4 linked regions of the Homo sapiens genome follow. The protein of the gene in region 4 interacts with the protein of the main gene of each other region in a pairwise test. Each region holds a gene or a part of one and is shown on either strand. Other genes may lie near its edges.

Evidence for each region.
Region 1: the proteins of FHOD1 (region 4) and ZMYND8 interact in a two-hybrid assay, tested with the Homo sapiens proteins (one study listed by BioGRID).
Region 2: the proteins of FHOD1 (region 4) and BBS7 interact in a two-hybrid assay, tested with the Homo sapiens proteins (one study listed by BioGRID and IntAct).
Region 3: the proteins of FHOD1 (region 4) and LNPEP interact in a two-hybrid assay, tested with the Homo sapiens proteins (one study listed by BioGRID).

Annotation. Positions count from the first base shown.
Region 1 is NC_000020.11:47,346,687-47,353,711, forward strand, and holds part of ZMYND8 (MYND-type zinc finger-containing chromatin reader ZMYND8), read right to left. Parts: exon of another isoform or gene 6,319-7,025; intron 6,055-6,318; exon of another isoform or gene 5,875-6,054; intron 5,064-5,874; exon of another isoform or gene 5,024-5,063; intron 4,593-5,023; exon of another isoform or gene 4,508-4,592; intron 3,303-4,507; exon of another isoform or gene 3,204-3,302; coding exon of another isoform or gene 3,175-3,203; intron 1,241-3,174; coding exon 1,170-1,240; intron 1-1,169. UniProt on the Homo sapiens protein: Chromatin reader that recognizes dual histone modifications such as histone H3.1 dimethylated at 'Lys-36' and histone H4 acetylated at 'Lys-16' (H3.1K36me2-H4K16ac) and histone H3 methylated at 'Lys-4' and histone H4 acetylated at 'Lys-14' (H3K4me1-H3K14ac).
Region 2 is NC_000004.12:121,839,470-121,846,494, reverse strand, and holds part of BBS7 (BBSome complex member BBS7), read left to right. Parts: intron 1-798; coding exon 799-991; intron 992-2,493; coding exon 2,494-2,568; intron 2,569-6,798; coding exon 6,799-6,864; intron 6,865-7,025.
Region 3 is NC_000005.10:96,974,068-96,981,092, reverse strand, and holds part of LNPEP (leucyl-cystinyl aminopeptidase), read right to left. Parts: intron 1,956-7,025; coding exon 1,115-1,955; intron 1-1,114. UniProt on the Homo sapiens protein: Release of an N-terminal amino acid, cleaves before cysteine, leucine as well as other amino acids. Degrades peptide hormones such as oxytocin, vasopressin and angiotensin III, and plays a role in maintaining homeostasis during pregnancy.
Region 4 is NC_000016.10:67,230,482-67,237,506, forward strand, and holds part of FHOD1 (FH1/FH2 domain-containing protein 1), read right to left. Parts: coding exon 6,994-7,025; intron 6,902-6,993; coding exon 6,758-6,901; intron 6,634-6,757; coding exon 6,485-6,633; intron 6,253-6,484; coding exon 6,076-6,252; intron 5,954-6,075; coding exon of another isoform or gene 5,930-5,953; intron 5,589-5,929; coding exon of another isoform or gene 5,535-5,588; intron 3,992-5,534; coding exon 3,876-3,991; intron 3,787-3,875; coding exon 3,176-3,786; intron 1,714-3,175; coding exon 1,558-1,713; intron 1,358-1,557; coding exon of another isoform or gene 1,339-1,357; coding exon 1,156-1,338; exon of another isoform or gene 1,155-1,155; intron 1,069-1,154; coding exon 949-1,068; intron 869-948; coding exon 707-868; intron 311-706; coding exon 120-310; intron 26-119; coding exon 1-25. UniProt on the Homo sapiens protein: Required for the assembly of F-actin structures, such as stress fibers. Depends on the Rho-ROCK cascade for its activity. Contributes to the coordination of microtubules with actin fibers and plays a role in cell elongation.

The sequences.
Region 1 (7,025 bases), on a different chromosome or scaffold from region 4:
ACCTCCGCCTCCCAGGTTCAAGTGATTCTCCTGCCTCAACCTCCTAAGTAGCTAGGATTACAGGCGCGTGCCACCATGCCCGACTAATTTTTGTATTTTTAGTAGAGACGGGGGTTTCACCATGTTGGCCAGGCTGGTCTCGAACGCCTGACCTCGTGATGGTCCGCCTTGGCCTCCCAAAGTGCTGGGATTACAGGCATGAGCCACCACGCCTGGCGACACGCTGTCTTGTAACAATCCTCAAAATGCTTTTGGTTTCAGACGCCTTTAGGGAGTCACTTTGTGCGACACTCTGCAGCCAAATGAGAATCTCCTTCCGGCAGTATGCAGTAACCCTGTCCAGCCTCTTCCTCCCTCCCCATAACCCCCAGTGCAAGGCTGTGTGTTCCAAGAAAGCACTCAGTGACTTGTTGAAGGAATGAAAACACCTTGGTACAACCATTAAGTTTGGAGATGAGCCTTTTCATCAACCAAAGATACGAAAAATACTCCAGTAGCTCATTTGTGAAAGCACCCTGAAGGTAAAAGTGAATAACTGCTTCATTTTGGGAAGCCTCATAAAATCTCTTTCACAAAGACCAAATGAAAAGTACCAATCCCTCAATTAGAAGATATTCAGGAGTCTACTCCAGGCTTGTGAATAAACGCATAAATTGTGTTTGTCCTAATTTGCTAAATTTTGAACTAAATGCAAACACTGGCCCCGGCATCCCAGCAAGCTCTACATTTCCTTTTTATCTCTAACCCAAGACCACCACTTTCCAGTGAAGCGGGCTGACTTCATCCCACTTCTGGGATTCCAAAGAGGTCTGTTGTTAAAATCAGAAAACGAGCAGCAGCTAGAGGCTCTGGTGGCTTCCAGAACATGCTTTATTTAAACTGTGGCTCCTGAAAGTCACCCTGCGGAGAGGTAGCCAGCCACCCTCAGTCATGACACACAGGTAAAATTCACTGTCAGGACCCCTACACAGGCACCAGGGAAAGAAAACCAAAAGGAGGAGAGTTCTCCATCAATTAGGTTCATCCATCAAAAAATCTTATATCTGAAAATCCAAGAAGAGTTACAACGTCGGCTCAGAGAGCCACACACTTCACTGCACTACAACAACAAAAAGAAATTCCAATTTCCTCCTTAGCTCTAGAATAGATAATACAAGATTTTTACTCACCTTTGGAGCGAGTAGAGATATCCATGCCCTCTACCACCTCCTGTTCTGTTTTTATTTCCTCTTCAGCCAAGCTGAAACAGAGCAAATTATGTTCATGTTTAGGAAGGCTGAGAACTTGCCCCATGGGGGCAGCTATTTGGAAGTTCTAGCAACAAACACACCTTAAAGACATTCCCTCATCCTTATCCAGGGCTGGGGGAGGAAACCCACACCTGATTTCAACAAAGTGTGAAGAGTCCTAAAGGAGTTTTTTAAAACACTAGGTTGTTCTTTTTTTTTTTAAGTCAAATTACTATTCCAGTTGTCATGCTATTGGGGAATGCAAAAGGCAATTTTTTAGACACACAATTACAACCTACCCCTGTGGGCCAATGAGAACCCAGCCTTCAAATAAACAAGCTTCTCATTGTTAACACAGGGTTCAAAGGCAGGGAGGTTGGAGGTGTTTTGCAGGGTATCCAGAATTCTGATCGCTGAATACTTTAGGGCAAAGAGTAAGATTTCCCACACCTCCCCCTAAATCTTACAATTCCCTGATGAGGCAGGAACATGGGAAAAAAAAGATACAGGTTAAATTACAAAGCAGAAAAATATGCCCAGCTAGAAGCTAAAGACCTGGTCTCAAAACACTGAACCGAGGAGCACTGATTCCAGCAATCAGACTGGGGTCTCCACACTTCCAACCCCCTGAATGCTTCCTCTCTACAGCAGGCACGGCTTACTACTGAGTTGTGACTAATTATCCCCCACCACAAAAGTGGAATGAGGAAGGATTATTCAAAAGACAAAGGCTAAGAGTGGAGGGTTGGGGAGAGAAGCAAATAAAGCAAGCCCCTTTGCTGGGAGGGTCCGTCACCCAGAACATTCTCTCTCTCTCTCTGCTGGAACTAGGGTTGAAAGAGAGCCGGCCATATCAGATCTTCCTCCCACAGAGAACTCACAAGCTAAACCAAAGGGAAAAAATAGAGTTCTGCTTTCATAGATGCAAATGGTTTGAGGTGCTAGAACTTTCCAAACATTCAGGCTGACACTGAAGTGGTAAGAAGCTGGGCATTTACTCCAGAAGCAATTCCATCAGACTGTCGTTCCACAGGAAGAAATGGGTGCATCACCAATTGATATGGCTGGAATTTTCCATTTGGAAGACTCAACGCCAGGACAGGAAGGAGGCTGGGGAAGAGAGAATGTCCTGTCCTGGGGAAGAGAGAATGTTCCGTGGTCTGGGACTGTGACAACGCAAAAGGCCCAAAAAGACAGCCTCATGTCTCGAACCCTAGTATAAGGAGAAGATTTTAGGAGAGTTCCACGTTAGGAGGAGAGGACTTAGGATGGGAGCTAGATAGAATGGAAAAGATTATAGTTCAGAGTTAAATTATAGGGGCTTGGAGACGAAGAAAGGTAGTTGGGTTTAAATGAGAATATTAACACATTTAGCCATCTGATTTTGAACCCCGTTAACAATTTCATTTACACCGCATCTGTAAAGAAAGCCTGTGACACAAATCACCAAAGAAACAACTGACATGTTGTCACAAATGGTTTTCATCAGGAGAAAGCAGCCTGCTAAATTTAAACACATCGCTTATATGCAATAATACAACGGTGATTTATTGAAGGTTATTTCAGCACTAATGCTTTCTATTCCAACTTAAGGAGAAAACATTCTCAACTCAGAAACACTCTGCCTGAAACATACACAGGTTGTCCAACTGGATGCTGTTGATGGGTTCTGGCTTGGGGTGACTGGAAATACATCTTAACAAAAAGCCCCATGCAGCCCTCGGAGATGGGTAGACAGTTAACTTCAAAGGAACAAATAGCAACCTTGATCTTTTCTAGCAACTAGAATTCTGTTTCCCTCTCTAGCATGAAGTATGTGAAATTCTAAACTTCTTGAAACCGATCCCATATTTTGAGTAATAGAGAAAACGCTAATCTGTGATCCAACTGAAATCTACAGTGGTGAGGGAAACAATTATGCAGAACTGAGCCAAAAAAAACCCACTTGAAGGATTTCTGCAGCGATGAAAACATTCAAAGGTGTATTGATCATGGAGGAAGGCTGCATTCAAGGGAACCATTATTTGGCTTGTAACAGCCTAGAGGAGCTGAATACTTCAGGCAGGAATGCTGCTGAGAGACGAGGAAAATGCAAACTAGTTATGTGGTGGCTATTTGCTTCTGAGTTTTAAGATAATCAATGCTGGAGCAGAAGAGAGAGGGAAAAAAAAGTTAAGCTGTTTTATCTTTCCAAGTATTACAAGTGGGCACCATAATCACCCAACTTTAGCAATAGCACCACCAGCTTTAGCACAGCATTTCAAGCACAACAATTTAAGAAAACCATCTTTTTCACAGATCAGCAAACCATCCTTTCAAAAGGAACCCGTGCACACACATGCACGCACACTCACACACACAATTAACTTGTATTTGACTAAAGGAAACTGCAGTGTCTATGCATTAAAAGGAGAAAAAAAAAAAAAAAAAAAAAAAACTTCATTTACAAAAGCAAAGACCAGAATGCAAAATTAGTCATTTTGAATAGCCACATCTAAAGGGACTTCCTTTTTCCTACACCACTGATTTCGGTTTTTTTGTGTGTGTGTGTGTGTTTTTTTTTGATTTAGTGTTAAGAACTAGTATGTTATTAGGAAAAAAAAATGAATATTACATCAAAAGTAGGCGCAAGAAAAGATCTGTACCTGTCTGAATTGCCCCACTGATGTTGGTCAATTTAGGTTAAGAACTGTTCAGTCATTTGGGGGAAAAAAAACAGTCAAATAATTCTTAAAAAGAAAAGGCAGCTGCATCTGGAGAAAATACTCTGAACTTCTGTCATTAACACATTAAAGTCTTAGAACATAGACAGCTTATTTCCTTCCATATCTGCTAGCTTCCAGCAACCCTGATGATTTAAATCAAAAACAATGGGACAACAAGCTCTTGTTTCAAACTGACATTACTTTTTTCCCTTTAAAGGTCTGTTGAGGAAACTGGGGGCCCGCTACAGAAAAGGGTAAAATTAGCTGAAAAGCAAACAATTTCTCACTCCAATAGGAAAATACACCATCAACTAGTTAGATACATTGTATACACCACCACCTCTTACACTCACATTTACCCAAGTCATTTGCCTGCAGATTTCACAAACTGATACATTTGAGGCAATTCAAAGAAATAACAGTACCTGCAAAGATAACCAAGACCACCCCATCCCATCCCAAAAAGAATAAAAGATTTCTCCCCCAGTGCCTGAGCAAGAAAACCTATGCTTACTTCTTAACCTGCATGCACTGAAAAAAGAGCAATTAAAAGTTGCAGATGAACTACTGCACCTCCAGGATGCTTTAAGCCTTCTGATTGTTAATTCTGAGGACTCAGGGATGGTCCGTAATTCCCAGGAATCTCATCTCCTCAACACTTCCAAGAGAGAGAAAAAAGAAAGCATCTAGTTTTGACAGAAAAATGCCTGAATACACAATGCCCACATATTTCTTTTCCCCAAGTGCCCCTACTATTTGACTTTTAAAGAAGAGTATCTAAGCCATCTAGAATATATAACCAACATGCACAAGACTCTGGTTCTACAGATGAGGATCATCGCACAGCAATTCAAGAATCATGCATCATTCGAAAGGACTTTTCCTGGTTTTTACTTTTCATTCAAAATACCAAAATGGTCCAGGCTGTAAGAAATATTTAATCCCCAAGGCATAACATCTTCCTCTTCTAGATTACAAAATAGTGAACATCAAAATTAAAAACCATGCTTCCCTAAATCTACAATTAATTTTTTAAGAAATTGGGGTGGGGGGGAATGGTTAGCAGAGCAGCTTTATATAAGCACTCACCTAAAACAGGCAGAGTCATCGGTAGCTAAGCTATTTATGCAGGATTCTTAAAATGGCGTCTGGCAACACTGCCTCATTCCTGTGTTGAAGCTAAAATGGTAGCAGTTTGTTCAATAGCTGTAGCTCTTGTTTAAGCAGCCCTGCGAGTTTCAAAGCCACCTTCCTAAATACCAGAACTAGGAAAAGCTGAACCAAAGGACACCAACAACCCAACGTTTAGAAGCTTAAAAAAAACTCTGCAATGACAGGGAGAGTTTGTGAAGTCACAGGTTCCTAAGGAAAAGCCTTCTCTTGTAGATCCTGAGCCTTCAACATGAGGCTCTGTGATGAGGCCCCCTTGCCCTCAAATTAGGTGGGTAGAAGGTTAGGAATCGTGCAGCCCCGTGGCACAAACTGCAGACGGACAGGTGTCTGTGCAAACACAAAAATGTTCCCAGGGAGCAGCCTGGGGGAAGGCAAGGAGGAAGCCCGGTCCCCCTTCTCTTCTCAGTCTATTAGAAACCAGCTTTGCATCCATACCAAAAAGGCGCTAGGTAAAATGAAAGTGCTTCAAGGACAGCAGGCATCTGAAAAGCCAAGCTAAAGGGCTGCACCTCAGTCTACGGCAAAGGTAAAATAAAAAGGCTGTTTATAAGCCTGCAAACAGCCACCAAATACCCAGCCCTCTGAAGCAGCCAGTCCTAAGACAGTTAACATCAAGGAAAGACAATCCGAGTCTGCAGAGGAGAAACACAAGGAAAACATTCCCTTATCCAATGCACAGGATACTCACAAATTAGATTTCTGACCACCCCCAACAGAGCCTGAGAATTAACAATGGGTTTTGCAAAACCCGCTTTCAGAGGCCGAACTAACAGCCTGAGTGGATAACGTCATTTACTGTTACAGGTCTGAGCATTGGCCTCAGAACTCCTCTGGTGCTGGGAGTGAGGAGTTTCAAGGTGACTGCTTTTTAGCTCCAGGGGAGAAAGGAGGGCACAGTGCCCAAGGCCATGCCAGGGCAAGGACGGGCCACTGGCCCCCGCCGGCCGGTAGGTAAGGTAATCGGGATGGGGGGGACAGGCTGGCAGCACACTGGCTGCAGAGCTGGCATGGCCACTGCCTGTTTGTTTGTCTGCAAGGAGAGTGGGAAGTAGCGGGGAGGGTGACCATAACCTTAGCAACCTGAAGCCAAGGGTGAACCCTTGCTCAGATCTTGCATTTTAAGAGTAACCAAAGGGTTCTGAAACATATTCCCTTTTTAAATCTCTGCTGTGCAGTAGCGAAGGCCCCTTTGAATGTATCTTTCTTTCCAGAGTCAACCAGAGGCAAAGCCAGATTGAGGGTTCCCAGGCTGACAAATGTCTGCTGCCTCTGCCACAGGAGAGAGAAGGGGAAAGAGGGCAAAAGAAACAAAGACATCACGCGTTGCAAGTGGCTGGACTTTTAAAAACCTACCTTTGCCTCCAGGGTTTTCTAGGTTACTGTCACCCCACTTCCTAAAAAGTGTCTCCCCCCTCATCCTATTTAAGACCTGATGCAGTCTCCCCACTGGTTCTCCCAGGGAAAGAAAAGGGGAAATGTTTTGTTGAAAATAAAAGGGATGACAAGAAAGAAAGGAAAAAAAGCTATTGTTTTCATCCCTAATTTATAATCCAAGAGGCCCCCAATTGTTTCTTTCTGACTCAAATCTTTGAGCTGTTAATTATAAAAGTAACTGGACTTGGCGCCAACGGGCTAACTATGATCAGGCTCAGCAATTAGAAAAACTCTGTAGAAAGTTTACTGAGTGATTATATATAATTAATTCCTAGTTACAGACTGAACACTGACCATTTTCTGGAGCTAATAAAAGCAGTTACTCCCCCTCCCCCACGTGAATGCCACTTAATTTCCCAAAGCAGAAAGTGAATCCATCCTGGAGGGTCTTGAAGGAAAAAAAAGGAGAGGAATCAAAAGCTTCAGTGTGTCTGTGTTTGCTCCTTGCAGCTGTGTATCCTCTTTGGGGACTGAGGAGGCAGAA
Region 2 (7,025 bases), on a different chromosome or scaffold from region 4:
TTTGATACCCAAACACTGCTAGGTACATAGGAGTAAATATGTAATATTTAGCAGTAAATATTTCTTTGATGAATGAATCTTTTCCTTTGTTCATTACACAGATCCCTTCTAAGCTCCTCCCTAGACTTTTCCTCCTAAACTGTGGCTAGTTAAGCCTCATGTTGTTCTATCCCAATGACTGTTTACTCCATTTGCATGTGGCCCTTCCCCTTAACTGGAGCTCTAAGCAATGCTGTAGTTCAGTCTCAGCAGAATCCTCTCTAACTCTTGGTAGTTAAGCCATACCACTGGCTCATGATCATCCTTGTGGTCCCCAAAATGCTAATGCTCTGCAGCTTCCTTTTTATTTTTTATGTCTCCCCTAATGTCTTACTGAAAGTTACGTGTTTACTGGCTTCACACATTTTGTCTCTTTTCATTAAGACTAATATGTTCTGCAATATTAGTTTCTCTTCTCATTAGTATAAGAAGTTTCTCTTCTGATTAGTACTTTATGTAACTGTAACAAGATTCCTGTGTTAAGATTATTTTGTAGCCTACCATGATATTTAAAACTCTCTATTAATATTGCTAGTATGGGAATGAGTAGATATTTTAATTTTGGGGTTAAGGATAAATAATGTGGAATCATTTAGTCAGTCATAGAAGCAAAAATTTTGCTCCCTTTGTTTTTATTTTATTAACTCAACCAATAAAAACCCATTTTGTAAAAGCAAATGTCTCAAATTTTTGTAAACATCCTAACGACCTCAAATGTTTATACTTATATTTGACAAATTTGTATGTGTTTTTCTCCAGGAATGAGTTGGAACATTTGCAGTATAAGGTATTGCAGGAAAGAGAGAATTATCAACAGTCTTCTCAATCAAGCAAAGCAAAATCAGCAGTACCTTCCTTTGGTATAAATGATAAATTTACACTAAATAAAGATGATGCCAGTTACAGCCTTATCTTAGAGGTACAGACTGCAATAGATAATGTCTTAATACAGGTAAGCAAAATGTCTAATTTCTTAGTTTTATGACTGGATCTATTTTGCAAACCAGTCATATGTACTAATTATTATTGAACATTTTTAGTTTTAGACAGTAATTTTATTTTATTTTTATTTTTATTTTTATTTTTTTGAGACAGAGTTTTACTCTGTCACCTAGACTGGAGTGCAGTGGTGCGATCTCAGCTCACTGTAACCTCCGACTCCCAGGTTCAAGTGATTCTCCTGCCTCAGCCTCCCGAGTAGCTGGGACTACAGGTATGTGCCACCACACCTGGCTAATTTTGTATTTTTAGTAGAGACGGGGTTTCACCATGTTGGCCAGGCTGGTCTTGAACTCCTGACCTCTGGTGATCCACCCGCCTCGGCCTCACAAAGTGCTGGGATTGCAAGCGTGAACCACCCCACCCAGTCATAGACAGTAATTTTAAATGTTTATGGCCTTTTATTCTTCCTTTAGATAATTGGTTTGCTCACAGATTATTTGAATTATATTTTTACTTTTTATTTATGTACTTAACAAACAAAAGATGGGCTTCAGTTTTAAGAAGAGTTAGAAAAGACAGTAAGGTTTTTCTTCTTTGGCTACCCTCTGGGAGAATCTTAACAGAGATGTGACTTAGAAAACTACCATATTTAATGCCCTTGCTAGAACATTTTTTTTTAAAGCCCCAAACATTAAAGTACAGCTTGCTCATTAACCCAACAGTTTCTGGTAGGTCAACAGGCAAAGTAGAGAATACTAAAGGGTGAAATTTAGGGATAATAATATATGACTCCATTCATCAATGTATATATTTACTGACTTATTTAAATTAGAAGGTATTCAGGAAGTAGAAAAGAATAATAGGATGAATAGAAAACAAACAAAAGGTAGTAAACCAATCACAAAATGAGAACATAACAAATTGGAGGAAGAAAAGGTTTAAAAAGATGTAATGGAGAGATCAGATTATTAAAAAAAAAACCTAAAGGCAGAAAACTCTCTTAAGTAATGCTAGCTCACGGGCTGTTGCATTGAACAACTCTAGGAATGCCATTCACATAGGACAGTGCAACAGCTTTGTCCTACAAACTGCCTCTCCAGAGGAGACCAAAAATTATCTTCTTTCTGTGTTACAGGTAAAATTAAAACTGATAAAAATGAACTGATACAATCAGAATGGCCATGTGATTATTTATAGCTCATGGTAACATTTTTAGCACTTTATAAAAATAAGTGGGATGATTGGACTTTTAAGGGGGTGGTGAGAGATGTTATTCTGTGATTTTTATAATCCAAGTTAGAAAAAAGCAGGTGATTGTAAAATAACATTTATTCTTTATTATATTTATTTTCTGGAAGTATATACTATCAAGTATAAGTTAAGAGAATTCATACTCTCAAATTTAAAGATGAATATAAACTAGAACTAAGGAGAACTCTTAGAGAAAACATAATTTATGAACATTTTTAGGTTTTCCATCTCAACCTTCTTTTTTTTTAATATTGACTATAGAGTGATGTTCCAATAGATTTACTTGATGTGGATAAAAATTCTGCTGTTGTTAGCTTTAGCAGCTGTGATTCTGAGGTGAGTAAAAATATAAAAGAATTCTTCACATGCTTTCATTTCTATTATGCCATTTTGATTAAAGTCTATAGATGCTGCTAGGTTTTGATGTTTCTTTTTCAATTATTTCTTATGTAACCTTTCCTTCAAAATCTGTGTCGGTTCTCTTTCCCTGTCCTCAGTCGAGAAACCTGATGTCCTAGATTCCTTCTTTTCTGTGATCTGTTACAGGTTGATATCCCTTATGTGAAATGCTTGGGACCAAGAAGTATTTTGGATTTTGGATTTTTTTCAGGTTTTGGAATATTTGTTTTGTATTTACTGGTTCAGCACCCCAAATTTGAAAATCTGAAATCTGAAATGCTCCAATGAGCGTTTCCTTAAAGTATTATCTTGGCACTCAAAAAGTTTAGAGTTTTGGAACATTTTAGATACTCAGTTTGGGAATGTTCAGCCTATATATCCAATTAGTCACTAGTTTCTGTCAGTTCTACCTCCATGGCTTTCATACTTCCACTTGGCTTCATTCCTACCCCTGTTAACTTAGTCCAGGCCCTTATCATGTCTTGCTTGAACTACTTTATAAGTTTCTCTGCCTCTAGTCTTGCCTCTGACTTCTAGGATATGCTGTATGTACACTACCACCAGAGACGTCTTCCTTCCTAAAACACGAACATCACTGTATCTTTCTTTTCTCAAAACCTTTTCAATATTCCTGATTTCCTGCTAGATATAAATATAGATTCCTTATTGTGGCATAGAAAACTTTCCATGATTCAGCTCTTGATTACATCTCTAACTTCTCTCTCACCGGCTGCTACCACCCCTCCCATGCACATTATTTCTGCCAAACTGAAGTTCTTAAAATTCCTGAAAATGCTATATAGTTTCACACATCCCTGCATTGGAACATGATCTGTTGCTTCCCCCGCTCTTCCTGCCCTGCCCCACTTTTTCTAGGCTTGTTGAATGCATACTAAACTTCATTCAACAGACTTTTATTGAGCACTTAACGTGCACAGTACCTGAGATGATCACGTCAGTGCTTTTGGACATGCTTACTGTATCACTTCTTTCTGCTTAGTACTAGCCGATAAGCAGTCTCAGAGCTAGGTGTGACTCCTGAAGAGAAGTCAAGGTATAGATAAGGTTTGGATTAATTGCATTGTAGAAGGCAAGCCAGAGCAGGAGGAGATGGTAACTGGAGTTGGTGGTTAGTTATATTAATATATATTTTATTTTATTTATATGCATTGGCACTGTTGCAGAATATATTTTATTTATTTGGTTTTTGTTATTTATTTACTTTTTTAAGACATGGTCTCGCTCTGTTGCCCAGGCTGGAGTGCAGTGGCGTGATCATGGCTCGCTGCAGCCTCGACCTCCTTGGCTCAAGCAGATCCTCCCACCTCAGCCTTCCAAGTAGCTGGGACTACAGGCACAAGCCACCATGCCTGGCTGATTTTTAAATTTTTTGTAGAGACAGGGTCTTCCTATGTTGCCCAGGCTGGTCTCAAACTCCTGGGCCTAAGTGATCCTCCCACCTCAGCCTCCCAAAGTGCTGGGATTATAAGCATGAGCCACCACGTCTGGCCTTATATATATATTTTTAAAAAGGAGGAATAAAAGAGTAGATAAAGTAAAATATTGATAGATAAAAGAATAATTTTCTTTTTCTTTTTTTTTTTTTTTTTTTGAGATGGAGTCTCACTCCTCACCCAGGCTGGAGTGCAGTGGCACAATCTCAGCTCACTGCAACCTCCGCCTCCCAGGTTCAAGCAATTCTCCTGTCTCAAGACTCCCAAGTAGCTGGGACTACACGCACACGCCACCACACCCGGCTAATTTTTGTATTTTTAGTAGAGATGGGTTTTTGCCATGTTGGTCAGGCTAGTCTTGAACTCCTGACCTCAGGTGATCCACTGGCCTTGGCCTCCCAAAGTGCTGGGATTACAGGTGTGAGCCACTGTGCCCAGCCTGTTTTTCAATATAACTTCATAGTAAAAATTTTATTTTTAATAAGCGATTTTATAACAGTTGTATTATATTATCAATATGTGGTTTGTCGTTCCTGTTTGAGAACAAAACACAAAAGATATGGCCTACATTTTTATGATTATTTAGAAAATCAGTAAACTTAAAACAAACTTAAAATCTTTGATTCTTAAGTTACTATGAAAGATTAATCTGTTTTAATTACATCACTGAAGGATTCTTTGAAATGACTATTTGATACTAATTTAAAATATATTTTCTAGGACAATGGCTTTAAAAAAACGTATGGAGGTTTCAAGTATACACAAAAGTAGAAAGACTAGTATAATAACTTGCATGTACCCATCACTAATTTTCAACATATGGTTAGTCTTTTTTTTTTTTAAAAGATGGGGGTCTTACTGTGTCACCCAGGCTGGAGTGCAGTGGCGTGATCATAGCTTATTGCAGCCTGAAACTTCTGGGCTTAAGCTTATCTTCTTGTCTCAGTCTCCTGAGTACGTAGGACCATAGGCATATGCCATGATGCCCAGCTAATTTTTTTTATTTTTTATTTTTTGTAGAAATGGGGCCTCACTTTGTTGCCCAGGCTGGTCTTGAACTCCTAGCTTCAAGCTGTCCTTCCACCTTCCAGCCTCCCAAAGTGCTGGGATTACAGGTGTGAGCCACCATGCCCAGCCCAGTCATTTTTTCATGCTCTTCACCCTCTCCTTCCCACTCCCAAACCTCATCCCAAACATGTTATCTGTATCATTTATTGATAAACACTGTAGTATATAACGTTTGCTTTTAATCATACAAGAACACATTTACGGCTTGGCACCGTGGCTCATACGTGTAATCCCAGCACTTTGGGAGCCCAAGGCAGGTGGATCACTTGAGGCCAGGAATTCAAGACCAGCCTGGCCAACATGGTAAAACACCCTCTTTACTAAAAATACATAACAAGTAGCTGGGTGTGGTGGCATGCACCTGTAGTCCCAGCTATTTGGGAGGCTGAGGTATGAGAGTCAGTTGAGCCCAGGAGGCAGAGGTTACATTGAGCTGAGATCACACCACTGCACTCTAGCCTGGGCAACACAGCAAGACTCTGTCTCAAAAAAAAAAAAAAAGAATATATTTACTTTTAAATTGATCAGTCCTCTCTGTTGAGTTTAAATGATTTGAAATTGAAATGTTTGAGTTTTATATTTTATATTACCATCCTTTTTATTTCTTTGATTATTTAATAAAAATAGAGAAATAGCAGTCTCAAAAATTACATATAAATTATCTTATGTTGCTGTGTCTCTTTTTGTAATCCATGAACCTAGCTACATTTCTCTATTTCTAGTAGTTTAATATTCAATTTCAAGAAGTTATAATATTTGAAAAAACTCCTCTAGGTTAGTTCAACAAACATGTATTAAGCACTTACAGTATGCCAGGCACTGTGCCATTTGCTGGGAATACAGAGAAGAGATATTTCTCTTTCCTGTATAAGTATTTGTGAAAAATCTAAGAGATTCAATATTAAACTCTGGTGTATGTGCCTTTACAGTATAAACATTTTGTATTAGTCCATTTTCACACTGCTGATAAAGACATATCCAAGATGGGACAATTTACAAAAGAAAGAGGTTTATTGGACTCACAGTTCCACCTGGCTGGGGAGGCCTCACAATCATGGCGGAAGGTGAAAGGCACATCTCACATGGCGGCAGACAAGAGAAAATGAGAGCCAAGAGAAAGGGGTTTCCCCTTATAAAACCATCAGATCTTATTCACTACCATGAGAGCAGTATGGGAGAAAATGGCCCCATGATTCAATTATCTCCCACTGAGTCCCTCCCACAACACATGGGAATTATGGCAGTACAATTCAAGATGAGATTTGAATGGGGACAGAGCCAAACCATATCACATTTGGTGTTTGCATTGTCAGATTTTTAGAAGAATTCTTAATGTTTAAAAATGTTATTGTAAAAACTCAAGATGGAAAGAGCATGAGCTTTCGATAGGAATTTGAATTCCAGTTTCATCACTTAATGGCTTTTATTTAACTCCTCATAACCTCAGTTTCTTCATCTGTTAAAATTTAATTAGTAAAACTTAGTGCATAGAGTTTTTGTAAGTGTAAGTTAGAACATGTTTGAAAAGCGCTGAGCACCAATGACAGGTGCTTAAGCAAATGGTAACCATTATTATTATTGATGTCTTTTTTTTGTTGCTAAAAACATGGATTCATTCTTTTCCTCCACTTTGTATTCTTCCCAGTCAAACGACAACTTCCTTCTTGCCACTTATCGGTGCCAGGCAGATACTACAAGGCTGGAACTCAAGGTAAAAATATTAGAAATTACCTTTACTTGAATGTTTGAATTTCCTTTTTCCTGCTGGTATGTCTTACAACATATGATATTATTTGTTTGCATTTAATTTCTCCCTGAAATGAATTGTTTGGAGTAATGAATTTTGAATGACCAGTTAGGATGTAATTTAGC
Region 3 (7,025 bases), on a different chromosome or scaffold from region 4:
TCCTGGGGATAATAGGCATTATAGAAGGAGAACTAAAGGCAAGAACTTTCAAGTTCCCATTGCAATTATACATTTGTGTTCAATCCCAGATCTCACGCAAGAATTGAAATGCAGGGCCAGTATGCCATTTATTTTAAAAGTATTACATAGAGGGAAAATAAAATAAAAATTATTTATCTGAATAGAATTATGGATCTTGCTTGGTCTCTTTCTCCATTTAAGAAGGATCAAAAAGTTTCCTTTAGATGTAGAATACTCATTTCTAACTATTTCTCTTAATATGTCAACATACATTAGCCAAATGGTCAGCATCAGTAATTCACATATTGTTTTACAGAGTAATATGAGAGAATGTTCCAATTGCATAAAGCAGATGTCGTGAGGATTTTGTGCACAAGACAACTGATATCACTGCTACTTAAGAATAACCTCCATACTGTGTGAACTCCATCTTCCCAGAATTTCAAACTACATGCTATGAATGCTAAGATTAAAGTACTAAATATATAGTCCAAATAGGGAGCTGAATAATTTTATATTTTGTCTCACCTTTTTTTCTGAACCAAATTAAGTCTCTCCTAGACCTTAAAAAAAATTTACACCAGAAATCCAAAATAGACTGGCATTTTAAAAAATAATAAACCAGTAAAGATTAAGGATATTAAAAATGATATATGTAAGCACACCACACTTCACACTTCTTCATGCCCTCTTTCTGTATTTCACTAAGTACCTCCTAAAAGTTCTGCACATTAGGAAAATAGGTCTTAAAGAATAACTCCTCTTTACTCTGCTTCCCAACAGACTTCATGAGGTGACAGAAAACTAGATTCACCTTAAAAATGTGAAAAACTCAAGATAACAAGTTTTGGATATAATCTTTATCCATCCTTTTCCACCAGCACACCCCTATCTCCACCCCACCATGATATATGCTCAAGGCGTTGACTAAGAGAGATAATATATTGTTCTAAATCACCATTCTACTATTTTGTATATAACTTCCTAAATTAAAAAAAAAAATCACAATTCGTGTCTCTGGTGTGGACAAAGGGATCTATATTGCAGAAGTTATCAGAGCGTAAAACCAGAATCATTTAAGAGGGCTACCTACTTTTTCTCATTACTTTCATCTGTGTAGGAGAAGCCATAAAACCCATAATAAGAACTAGATATATTTGCCGAGTACTCTATCTTCAACGTATAATTGTGCCCTGCTAGAAGGGCTTCGGGGGCAACAATGGCGATCTGTCCATGATATGCATATTCCAGGATCTCAGCTTGTTTTTCTTGGCTTGAAACTGCTGACATAAAGGTCACTCTTGAAATATTATGACCTGTGCTATGAAGAATGATATTCCATGTGACCTGAAGAGCCTGAACTGAAATTGTCACAGAACCCCTGAATGTCATCGAGGTTAGGTTCGGGTGTAGGCTGAGTTCATAGCGTAGTGGCACAACGGCAGTGGGAAGCCTGATCTGTGCCCATGGAAACAATTTCCCATTTGTTGCAAATGGCTGAATTAGTCCAATTGACTGGTTTTTTTTATGGCAGCCTTCTTTGGTAAAGGTACATCTGGGCAGTAAGTAAATCACCATGATTACAGAAACAGCAACCACGATGACAAAAGCACAGACCACCATGGTCCTTGCAGAGGGTACTGAACAAGCCCCATCTGGGCTCTGCCTGTAACCAGTTGCACTGTTCCGAAGGCCTGAGCTTCTATTCATGAAGGACATGCCCAGCAGCTTTGCTGATGACTCATAATCCTCTTCATCCTCCTCCATCTCATGCTCACCAAGACCCCGCACCAGCAGTCGGGAACCCCGGGGCTCATATTCCACCTCATCAGGCTCTAGAGGATGTAAACAAGGCTCTTTGGCTAAATCCACCACATCTGGTTCTTCCTCAAACATGCTGTTTTCAATCATATTCCTGGGGAGCTGAAGCCGATCTAAAAAACCAAAACATAAGAACAAGGCACAGAGTTAGAAAAAAAAAAGCTCATAATATTAATAACATGTCTTCTACCTAGACCACATTTAAACTAAGAATTTTTTTAAGTCACTAAGACTTATTTCCATCTCAGAGCTACTGAATTAAATAAGATGTTTATACCATTGAGTCATCCATTAAAAACTAAAACATAAATAAAAGTATACCACAGTTATGAAACAAGAAAGCTAAATAAACAGGCTATTATATTTTTAAAAAGTTAGCTGAGATAATATACTAATTTCCTTAATATACTCCTGCCCCACAACCTGGGACCCTGCCCTGGGCTTGAGAGGGCACTGTTTTGGCATTCCTCTGACTATGTCTGTCCCCACCAGGCGAGGAGTCAGTAGGATCAAAGGGATGTGCCCACCTACAGTCCACGGTTCCCCTTCTAGGGTTTGGGCACTGCAATCCCAGAATTTCTGTCCAACAGGCCTCAAATCTGCTTCCAAGGTATTTGTGGGTCTCATCCCTGAGTCTCATTCTCTCTAGGGAGCACCACAAGCTGGTATGCCCATTTCTAAGATTGAGTATGGCTAAGCAACAGGATGGGTTATTGTTTTCCCCTGAAAGAGGAATGTTTCTGTCCCACAGCAAATGGGAAGCAGCAAATTATATGGGAAATTTCCATAAGCAAGAAATGATTTTTAAAAAGATCAAAAGACAATAAAAGTCAGATAAAATTATAATTCAATCTGTTTTTCATGCTTCCATGGCTTTCAGAAGTACAACATATTTCCATGGGAAACAACCATACTGCACACCATGAGTGTTAGTGGATCTCAGTGGGAGCTTTTACAAACTACAACAAACCACACCTTCCGATTTGCCAAAATCACTGAGAAAAAAGACTCTAGAAGTAGAAGGGTCGATAATCCCCCATATATCAGTACTTCCTAGGATTAGATCGTTCAATGTTTTTTATTTAAAATTCATACAATTTTAGTTTTTAAGGGATCTCAAAAGTTATCAAATTGAAACCTCCACTAATCTTCCCTACAAGGGAAGATACTTTATACCTATCATTTCTAACCCTTACAACAATCCTATAAAATGGCAAGTATTCTATTTTAGACATGAGAAAATAGAAAAAGAGAAATAGATTAATTCGTCTTCATAAAGTCACACAGCTATTTAGTCATAAAACTGATATTAAAGCACAGGTCTAAAAATTTGATTCAAAAGTTTATGCTCTTTTCATTATATTGCATCCCTCTACTCAAACTAATTCAATAAAAGATGAGAGCCCTGAATTATTTATTTCATACCTGGCAATGAAGTTGCTAAGAGTATTATTTCACCATCAGGAGAGCAAAGCTTACAAAAAACTACTGAATATCTAGCTTAAGATAAATGCTATGTATTTTGTGCTATTCAACAAACACTGTAATGGTGGAAACTCTTCATCCATAAAACATATTATTGATAAATATTAGGATAAAATTTGCAGTTTTGCTGTTCAGTGTGGCCTGTGACCCTGCAGCATTTGCATCACATTGCAGCTTGTTAGAAACGCAGCCTCTGAAGTCTCCACCTAGAATACGAATTTTAACAAATCCTCGGGTGCTCACGTGCACTTAAGTTTGAGAGGCACTGGTATAAGCATCTTCCATGGTCAGATCCCAGCCAGCACTAAATACCATTCCTGAGTATGCTCTGGCCATCCCAAACTGCTTACTATTTTGAGCACAGGCCAGGCAGCTATTCCACGCTATCCTCCACATGTCTCTTTTTCTTTTCTCTTCCCTCTGCTTGCAGTGTCATCATCTCCCTTTCCCATGCCCATCCACCTGGTATTCCGTACCTCAGCTTAACTTGCTACAACACAAATTAAGAAAAGTTATGTTTTTTTGTTTTTCCTTTGTCTTTATTACCTTTAAAAAATAAACTTTCTTTTCATTTCACTTCACCCATTTCTGCTTTGGGGAGCATATGGATCACAATGAGGTTACCTTTTCCTGACTCCTCTCCAACCTGAACTGTATACAAGTTATGCTACTTTAAAATTTTTATTTGAATAAAACTTCTAATCATTTTCTAGGTATGAGTTTAGCATTCTGCCATCTACCCATCTACTATGAAAGAAGAAGGGTTCTAACATACTGCTTTTGGGAATATAATCTCCTAAACTTCCTATAGTGCCCCAATTTCTTGTTAAAAAAAAAAAGTATGTTCTGTTTTGATAGTTAATAGTGTTTTGGGTCATACACTTCATTAACAGAGCAAATATTGCTGTATTCAATTTTTTAAAATTGCTTTTAAAACTCTTAATGATTAGAAAGTTTCTGTAGTAGTTTTTTGGTTCCTGGCACACTGCTGTAGACTAGCTTAATTTTTTTTTTTAATTTAAAAATGTCTAAAAAGGCCTTTTTTGACTTTTTTACCACACATGGGAAGATTATGCTCTCAGGCATTTGCCCCATGTGTTTTGTTCTGTGTCAGGCCTACTGCAGACAACAATGGGTTCTGTACAGCATGGTTTTATTTACTATATTTCTGAACTAACTCCAGGTACAATCTCAGCTTAATATTTAGAGCATTCCAATCTCTCAATTCTGTCCCCTTAGAACTTTGTTGCTGTGTTTTTTTATTCTTCTGCCATGCCATTTAAAGCCAAGAGATATTCTACAGTTTGACAATTTGGTATCTCCTGTCTGCATGTCATTAATTTCAAATCTTCTGACAAGGGCTTAGTCAGATGCCTGCCTAAATCCAAATAACTTACTTTTATTATTTCACTCCCAGTCAGAATAATACCAACGTAGAATTTTAATCTTTCAGAAATGGAGATCACATCAACCCATTTGCTATATTTCACTGTGCAATATAGAAGCACAGTTTTTTTTTTGTATGCACAATCATATCAAGTTAAATATATCAAATCAGGGAAAATCACTTTTATTACAGGTATCCCATGAAGATACATGAAGGTACTTCAAGCCTATTTAAGAAAATGTTGATTTGATTCTTAAGTCAGTACACTTTGATTTTGGCATTAAATTGTAACATAACACATGATTACCCCTTGCTCGATGGGATTTATTCCTACTGAAAGAAGGGATCCTAAAGAAACAGGGAATTTTCTAAAACCTCTTAAATCCACATATAGAAGCTATCTATAAGTCAAAGCAAAGAACCTTCTACTGAAATGTTTCAGTTTTAAATAACATAGGCCCATGTGGTTATAATCTAAGAGAACTGAAGACATTTCTTTTCATCAGATACTGTGAACTAGCATTCCTCAATGTTGTTTGTGGACCAGTGCCAATGTGCAAAAGTGTGACCCATCTGGGACAGGATATACATAGACTATTAGTACCCAAAAACTTTTATGACAATTTGACAGAGTAATTTTTATGTGTATTGAATTTAATAATGTATAAAACTGAGCTATTTTTGTATGTCTTTTTTCATTTCATTTTTCTAATTAATTTTTTTATATGCTACAAAATTTCTGCAACAGATTAAAAATTAAAAAAACAGAAACAATAAACCCTGGTTCTTCAGCTCAGATAATGTGAGAAGCAGTGAGTTAGACTGTCACTATAATGGCAATAACAGTCAAGATAAAGTTCTTAACTATGTCAGTAGCAGTGAGAATAAAGAGGAGGGTATGATTACAAGTCACGTCAAAAAGGTAGATGCACAAGAACTGATACTACCTCGGGCTAGATGGACCTGCAGGGTAGGAGACAGAGAAAAGTCTATGTCAATTCCCTTTACATTCCAACTTGTATAACTGAAAAGAAGGAATGTCATTCACTGAGATTGAGAATATAGTCTTTCACATTTTCTAATTTTTTTTGAGGCAAGGAAGGAGAACAGGATTATGAGATGGCATTCAGTGTAGGATATATCTGTCAGATAACCAGGTGGAGATGTTTGATTAATAGAGTTAAAGGCCTGATTTTAGGTAGACGTTAAAATCCTGGCTTTTCCACTGACTTCAAACAGGTTACCTTTCTTAGCCTCAATTTCCTCACCTATAAATGTGGGAAACAGTGCTATTTTGTAGAATTGTTAAAAGGATTATGTTACGTGGGTTTAGAGCTCAAGAGAGTGATCTGGGTGGAAGATTCAGGTTTCCGAATCACCTGTGCAGATATGGTCATTAAAACCATGCAGATAAATGAGACTATCGAAAGGGAGACTCAGGGAGGATCAGCATTTAAGAGCTGGGTGGCCAGAGGAAGAAGGTCAGCAAAGGAGAAGAAATGGACCAAAGGTAGGAAAATCAGGAGTGGCATCCCAGAAACCTAAAGCTTTCATAAAGATGAAAGTGGCCAGCATTAAATATTTTAGAAAGGTCAAGTAAAATGAGGCCTAGAGAGACCCTTACATTTGGTAACCAGGGAACCAGTGACTTTAATAGTGAGAGTAGAAGCCTGATTCCAGGGGCCCAAAGAAGAAATGGAAAGTTAACAAAAGAAAACAAGGACTGCAGACTATTCTTTGAAGGTATGTAGTAGTTTATCAAGGAAAAAACATAGGGATAAACTAAAGGAAAATGTGGTATAGACAAAACTTAAATCCTTTTGTTTTTCATTTGTCTGTGTTTAAGATGGGAACAACTTGGGCATGTATTTCTGCAGGAAAGGAACAGTAAAGAAAGACAAAATGTGGAGGTGAAGGAGTAGGGGAGGGAAAATGCTGGCGTAGCATCCAGAGGGACAGGGAGAGTGTACAAGAAAATGATGGGAGCTAGGTGCTCTCCCTCCAAGCCTGGAGGACAGGAGGTAAAGACAGAGAAGAGGCATGTGCATGGGCACAAAACAGCAGAGAGCCTTCATGTTCTCTGTGACAAGTGCAAGCAAAGACATCTGCCCAGAGCTAAAGGCAAGTTGTTGGGAAGGCATAGGGGCTTGAGCAGAATGAGGGACAGGTGCCATAGGAGAGGGCCAAGGAGTGGTGACCCCAAGACAAGCATGACTGAGAAGGTCAGAAACCCCAGTGGAATTTGTCATACCACAAATCTCTAAAAAACATCTTCAGCACTTCTTACCAGCCCAGGTCTAAAAGAAGAGAA
Region 4 (7,025 bases):
CAGGTAGAGCAGGAAGGCATGGAACCTAGGCAGGTCAGAGTAGGGAGGGACAGTAAGTCCTGCTTATTGTCTGAGGGAGGGTGGTGGCCGTCCTGCCTCTCTTGGGTCCATGCCCCTACCTATTGCAGACACGGCGGTGCACTATCCTTAGCATGGCAACACGGCGGGCACACTGGTCCAGGAAGTGGGTGAGGCGGGCACGCAGGGCTGGGGCCAGCTCATGCTTGGCCAAGCTCCGCAGGCTCTCCTCGGCTGCCCGGCTCCGGCGCTCCAGCTGCCCCAGGTTCTCAGTCAGCTGTTCAAAGTCCACCTGAGAAAGCAAGGGGGTGCACATACTGTCCCCCCACACCCTGTAGACAAGACATGGCCCGAGGCTGCTTCTGGGCCAGAGTGGCCAGCTTGGGCCCTAAGGACACAGACATCCAAATCTCATAGACTAGTGCAAGAGACACAAGTCCATCTGATGTGAATGGGGAGCAGAAGGTTTACTGGGGGAAGTGGCAGTTAAACAGACCCAAAGACTGAGTAGGTGTGGCCAGGCCAATAGAGGAAAGAGCATTTCTGGCAGAGGGCATAGCTCACACCCAGGTGGCTGGAGCAAGCCCTGGCACAGCAGCCCAAATGGGGAGAAGGGGGAGGAGCCAGGCCCAGGAAGCAGCGCTCCTCATGCCTTGTCCGGCCTTGGTTGATTCTGGCAGGTGCTAACCTTGGCACAGCGGGTCAGGGCAGGGATTTCTGAATAGAGGTCAGAGGACTCAGGCCGGGTCTGGAGCACTAGGGAGCAGAGATGGTGTAGCAGTGACTGTCGACGCACCGTGTCCTTCACCTCTGACACCTTCTCCAGGTAGCTCAGCTCAAAGCCGCTGCTCTGAAAGGACCCTTTCTGAGCCTGGGCCTGGTTGGCTCCAGAACCCTGACTCCCCCTAGTCCCCATGTACTCTCACTCACCTGGGAGCCATTGAGGAAGTTGCCCACCGCTAGGAGGGTAGCCAGGATGCAGCGGAAGGTGGCATTCTGTACCAGCTGTTCCATACCCACTTTCAGGTCAAACAGTGGCTCAGCAATTTCCTGGTATGGGAGACCAGGGACTCTCAGACTACATGGTCATGATGCTTACCTGTCCCTACTGACTGTCCCACTCCAAGACCCAGGTACCCGCTCCATGCTGTCATAGTCCAGCTTGAAGGCCCAGAGTTGTAGACGAGCAGCGAGGCCGCCAATGGAGGCAAGAGTCATCAGGAAGTTCTCGGCTGGGCCCAGGGGTATGTCAGGGTTGGCCAGCTGGGCTTCCTCAATCTTCTGCCGCTCTTCCTCCGTGGGCATCATGGTCAGTAGCTTCTGAGGATGTAGCCAGAGCCTGACATGGCCCCCTCAATGCAGGCCTGAGGCCTGAGGCATTGGTCTTGACCCCTCAGTCATCTAGGGGAGGCCCCAGTGTCTGGGGACTGCCCTGCAGAAATGCCAAGCCCATGCCCACCACCAGAGGGACAGGAAATGCCCACCTACCAAAGGAGAAGGCCAGACCTCCCCCCAACACCCATAGCTGGGTGACCTCACCTCAATGCCATCCTTGCTGACAGCAAACTCATCAAAGTTGAGCAGAGCAGCCTTAATGACATGCACAGGTGGCAGTGTGGTTAGGCCGATGTTGATGGCGTTGCTGCGCTTGGGGTCCAGCACTGTGGTCATTGTCCGGCGGCCCTCTCCAGCTTTCTGCATGGTTGGGGGAAGGGCAGTGTAAGACTGAGGAAGGGGGCCTGACGCGGTGGCTCACGCCTGTAATCCCAGCACTTTGGGAGGCCAAGGCGGGTGGACCACGAGGTCAGGAGATCGAGACCATCCTGGCTAACATGGTGAAACCCCATCTCTACTAAAAATACAAAAAAAATTAGCTGGGCGTGGTGGCGGGCACCTGTAGTCCCAGCTACTCGGGAGGCTGAGGCAGGAGAATGGCGTGAACCCGGGAGGCGGAGCTTGCAGTGAGCTGAGATCACACCATTGCACTACATCCTGGGTGACTGAGCAAGACTCTGTCTCAAAAAAAAAAAAAAAAAAAAAAAGACTGAGGAAGGGACTAGCTGGGACAGCAACCTCAGAGGGCACTCCAAGGCCCTCCTCTAGATTGCCAAATGATCCCACAACTGACAAACTGGCAACCTGGAATGTGTAAGTCATGGGGATGAGCTTAGATTCTTTTGAGACAGGGCCTGGCTCTACCATCTAGGCTGGAGTGCAGTGGTGCCATCATCGCCCACTGCAGCTTATCTTCTGGGATTTTCCTGCCTCAGCCTCCCAAGTAGCTGGGATTACAGGCGTGTACCACCATACCCAACTATTTTTTTTTTTAACATTTTTTTTTCCGCCTCCCAGGTTCAAGCAATTCTTTTGCCTCAGCCTCCCAAGTAGCTGGTATTGCAGGCATGAGCCACCACGCCCAGCTCATTTTCATATTTTTAGTAGAGACGGGGTTTCACCATGTTGGCCAGGCTGGTCTCAAACTCCTGGCCTCAAGTAATCTGCCTGCCTTGGCCTCCCAAAGTGCTGGGATTACAGGGGTGAGCCACCATGCCCGGCTAATTTTTTTTTTAACATTTATTTATTTTTATTTATTTAGTTATTTTTGAGACGAAGTCTTGCTCTTGTCCCCCAGGCTGGAGTGCAATGGTGCGATCTCGACTCACTGCAACCTCTACCTCCCGGGTTCAAGTGATTCTCCTGCCTCAGCCTCCCGAGTAGCTGGGATTACAGGTGCCCGCCACCACGCTTGGCTAATTTTGTGTTTTTAGTAGAGACGGGGTTTTGCTAATTTGACCAGGCTGGTCTCGAACTCCTGACCTCAAATGATCCACCTGCCTCGGCCTCCCAAGGTCCTGGGATTACAGGCATGAGCCACTACACCCAGACCAACTTTTAGTAGAGATAATGTCTCACTATGTTGCACAGGCTGGTCTCAAACTCTTGGATTACAGGTGTGAGCCACCATGCCCGGCCACATTTAGATTCTAGTTGGGGCACTGCTGATCCCTTGTTAGGAGACCTTGGACAATTTCCTACTCCTTTCTTTGCCTTGGTTTCCCCATGTGGGAAGTGAGTGACTAGCTCCAACAGGTCAGATCCTTAAGCTCTGATTCCCTCCTGCCTCCCTTGGGGCTACCTTGCAGATGAGTGGATTTACCTTGGAGGGCAGCACCTCTTTGGCACGAGACTCAAAGAGGTGTTCCAGTCGGGCCGTGTCCACTGAGACAGGGTCCAGTGAAGCCCAGAGGGTGGCGCAGGGCCCAAAGCGGCTTGCAGAGACTCCATGGCCCCCAGCCAGCTTCAGCTCACGCCAGAAAAGTTTTACTGTCTTCCTCTTAGTGGGGAGGGCTGAGCTGTCAGGCACTGAATGGGGAAGAGGGGCAGCCAGAGGTAGAGGTGGAGGTGGTGGGAAGGGGCCTTTGATGGGTGGGGGAGGTGGAAGTGGGGGAGGGGGGGGTACTCCCGAGAGCAGGGGCAGTGGGGGTGAGGGAGCTGGGATGTCTTTCCCAGCCTCCACAGACTCTACATTCAGCATGTCCTGGTCTTCATCCTCCCCTAGATCTGAAAAGTCCAGGTCCCCAATAGAGAGCCTGGGTGCACGGGTAGGGAGCTCCCAGATGGGCTCAGCCTTGGGGCTTGCTGGTATCAGTGGCTCCTTGGGCTCTGGTGCAAGGCTTCGCTGGGCCCGGAGCAGGACACAGGGGGCAGGGCTCTGGGGTGTTCTGGCTGCAGGGGCTGTCTCTGGGGAGTCCCAGAGTTGCCGGGCATCTAAAGAAAGGGAAGGAGCTGTCAGTGCCATGCCCCCTGTGGGGCAACAAAGCAACAGGCAGGCTCTGCCTGCTCACCCACCTACTCACCTGGGTGTCCACCCGCCTCATTGGGCATGGCCCCGGCAAGTGTCTCTGCCCGGCCCTGGGCCAGCGCAACCTGCTTCTCTGTTTCTGCTGCCGCCACATTCTCCAGGAACCGGGCTCTGAGGGAAGGTGCTTGTCACTGACAGCGTCTGACACACCCCAGCCCAGGTGTACATGCCTTGCTGAGCCCCTGGACACCACCCCCAATTGCAGGCACGCACAGACACACAGGGAACAGTCCATGCGCTGAGCAGACCAGAACCACACCCCCCCCAAGGCCAGCCCCTCTTCAGTCCTCCACATCTGGGGAGGATTACTACCAACCCAGCATTCCCAGGTGAAAACACAGGGAGAGGATCTACTTAACATCTAACTTGCAACCTCGTTCATGTTCACTGTCCTGGTTTTTTTTTGGTTGGTTTTTTTTTTAGAGACAGGGTCTCACTCTGTCAGTCACCCAGGCTGGAGTACAGTGGTGTGATCATAGCTCACTGCAGCCTCACTCTCCTGGGCTTGACCCTCAGCCTCCCAAGTAGCTGGGACTACAGACATGTGCCACCACGTCCAGCTGATTTTTTAATTTTTTTGAGGAGACAGGGTCTCACTGTGTTGTTCAGGCTGGCCTTGAATTCCTGGCCTCAAGCAGTCCTCCCACCTCAGCCTCCTGAAGTGCTGAGATTACAGGTGTGAATGATGCACCCAGCCAAATTTTAAAAAATTTCTTTGTAGAGATGAGGTCTTACTGTGTTGCCCAGGCTGGTGTCTTGAGTCTAGACAAGGACTCTTAGAGCAGGGGAAGGGGATAGCTGTCCCAATGGGCATATCAGGCTGTCCCTCCCTTGGCATGTCTGGTAGCTTCTGGGAGCCTATGCCCAGGAAAGGGCCTGGTAAACAGGCCAGGTGCGGTGGCTCACGCTTGTAATCCCAGCACTTTGGGAGGCAGAGGTGGGTGGATTACTTGAAGTCAGGAGTTCGAGACCAGCCTGGCCAACATGGTGAAACCCTGTCTCTACTAAAAATACAAAAATTACCCAGGTATCCTGGTGCAGGCCTATAATCCCAGCTACTTGGGAGGCTGAGGCAGGAGAATTGCTTGAACCTGGGAGGCAGAGGTTGCAGTGTGCTGAGATCACACCACTGCACTCCAGCCTTGGAGACCGAGCAAGACTCTGTCTCAAAAAAAAAAAAAACAAAAAAAAAACGGATGTGGTAAACAGTGGACCCTCAGTTTATGCTGAAATAATGGGTGCAATCCAGTGTTTCTTTTCTGGCCCCTCCAGCCTCTGTCAGCTCTCAGTCCCTGCCTTTCCCTCAGCCTTAGGTTACCCCTCCACCCCCACACCACACACCACACAGCACCCTAGGTCCCCTCCCTGCTCGCTTCTGAGCTGAAGACTTGGCAGAATGAGCCCCAGGTTGGGTGTCCACATCCCCATCTCTGGCTGCTAAGGTGTTGCTATTGAAGCACAGGGACCACTGTGACCCCAGTGAATTGGTTCCCAGTGCTTAGCCTTTGGGTTACCGAGGAGGCATATGTCTGGGAGAGGATAGGCCTGAGTCCCCCAGCTTTGGTTGCATCAGGCACGTGAAACCCCTGCTGGGGGAAGCAATGCTGAAGCCCTGAGCACATGGCAGGCCTGGCAGGCCGGCCTCTGTACTTACTCCAGCCTGGCCTGCCCAGGAGGGGACTGGGGGACGGGTGGGCTCTCAGGGGCCCTGGGTAGGGGGGATGAGAGGAAGAGATGGTAACTGTGGTGTCAGCTCCATGGTTGCTCATACCCACACAGAGCTAGGCAGTGATATTGGGGTTCCTTCCCAGCCGCAGTGGGAAGTGGGGGAAGGTATGACACGAGGAAACTGGAAGTGGAGGGGAGAGACTGACGTGGAGCAGGACAGGGTGCTGGAAGAGACAGAGGCAGCAGAACAAGGGAGTGACAGATAGTGGGCGGGAGACATGACAAGAGGCAAAGACAGGCAGAACGTCGGAGGAGACAAAGGAAACCACAGGAGGAGGAGATCCAGTCAGAGCCGAACCCCACCCGCTGGCAGTCACTTACCAAACGGAAGCAGTTTGGTGAAGTCTGGAAAGAGAGAGAGAGAAAGCACGCGTTTGGGCAGAGGAGGCTGAGTGCCCATGGAGGGGCGCAAAGCGGAGGGACAATGGGAGAGAGGACTCCAGGGTGGCCTCTGTCTCCCTACTTACTTGTAGATGCTCCTCTCGCTGGAGGTGTCAGCTGAGGGTGCCACAGAGATGGTAGGAAAAAGGTTCACTGAAGCTTGGAGACCGGAGGGAGGGCCCACAGGGCTGGAGGCGGGGCCTGTCAGCAGGGCGGGGCCGGTGGAAGAGGTGGGGCCTACCGGTGAGGCGGGGCCTGTGGGGCTGAAAGCAGGGGCTGTCAGTGGGGCGGGGCCTGAGAAGCTGGAGGCGGGGCCTGTCAGTGGGGTGGGGCCTGCGGGGCGGGAGGTGGGGCATGTCGGTAGGGCAGGCCCAGTGGAGGAGGTGGGGGCTGTCTGTGGGGCGGGGCCTGAGGGGGTTGGGGTCAGGGCCTGTCAGCTCACTGGGCCATGCCTAGTAGATCCACCCTTTCCCATCTACAGATGCTCGTACTTACCCAGGTTCCGGGGCACGCGCGGGGCAGCCCCCGCCTTCCAGAGAACGGCGGCTCCTCTTGCCCTCCTCAGAAGAAGGCTTTCGTCGTTCCCGCCGCCCACCAGCGCCTGGGGCTTCTTCGATGTCTCCATCCTCCAATTTCAGGGCGTTCTAGCAGAGGCGGACCAGGATGTAAGAAAGTGGTTAACGTGTATGCAGGTGGGGTGGGGCGCTGGGGACTGCGCTTCTCTCTTCCCTCTTTCCAATCCGCCTCAGAGCGTAAGGCCCGGCCCACCTCGTAGAGCACAAGCTGCGTGCGCAGGTCGACGTCAGTGCCCGCAGTGCCCAGGTGGCGCTGGACCAGCGCTTCCATGCCCTGCTGCTCCAGTGCATCCGTCACATCGTAGAAGGAGTCCTGGTCCGGGAGCGCCGCCAGCGTCTGGAGGGCGGGGATAAGAAGGCAAGGCTGAGGTTGGTGGGGAGGTCAGGAGCCTGAGCATCCCAGAGCTGGCACCCAGTCCTTGGCCACACCTTGTTGATGAGGGTGACCGTGTACACCAACA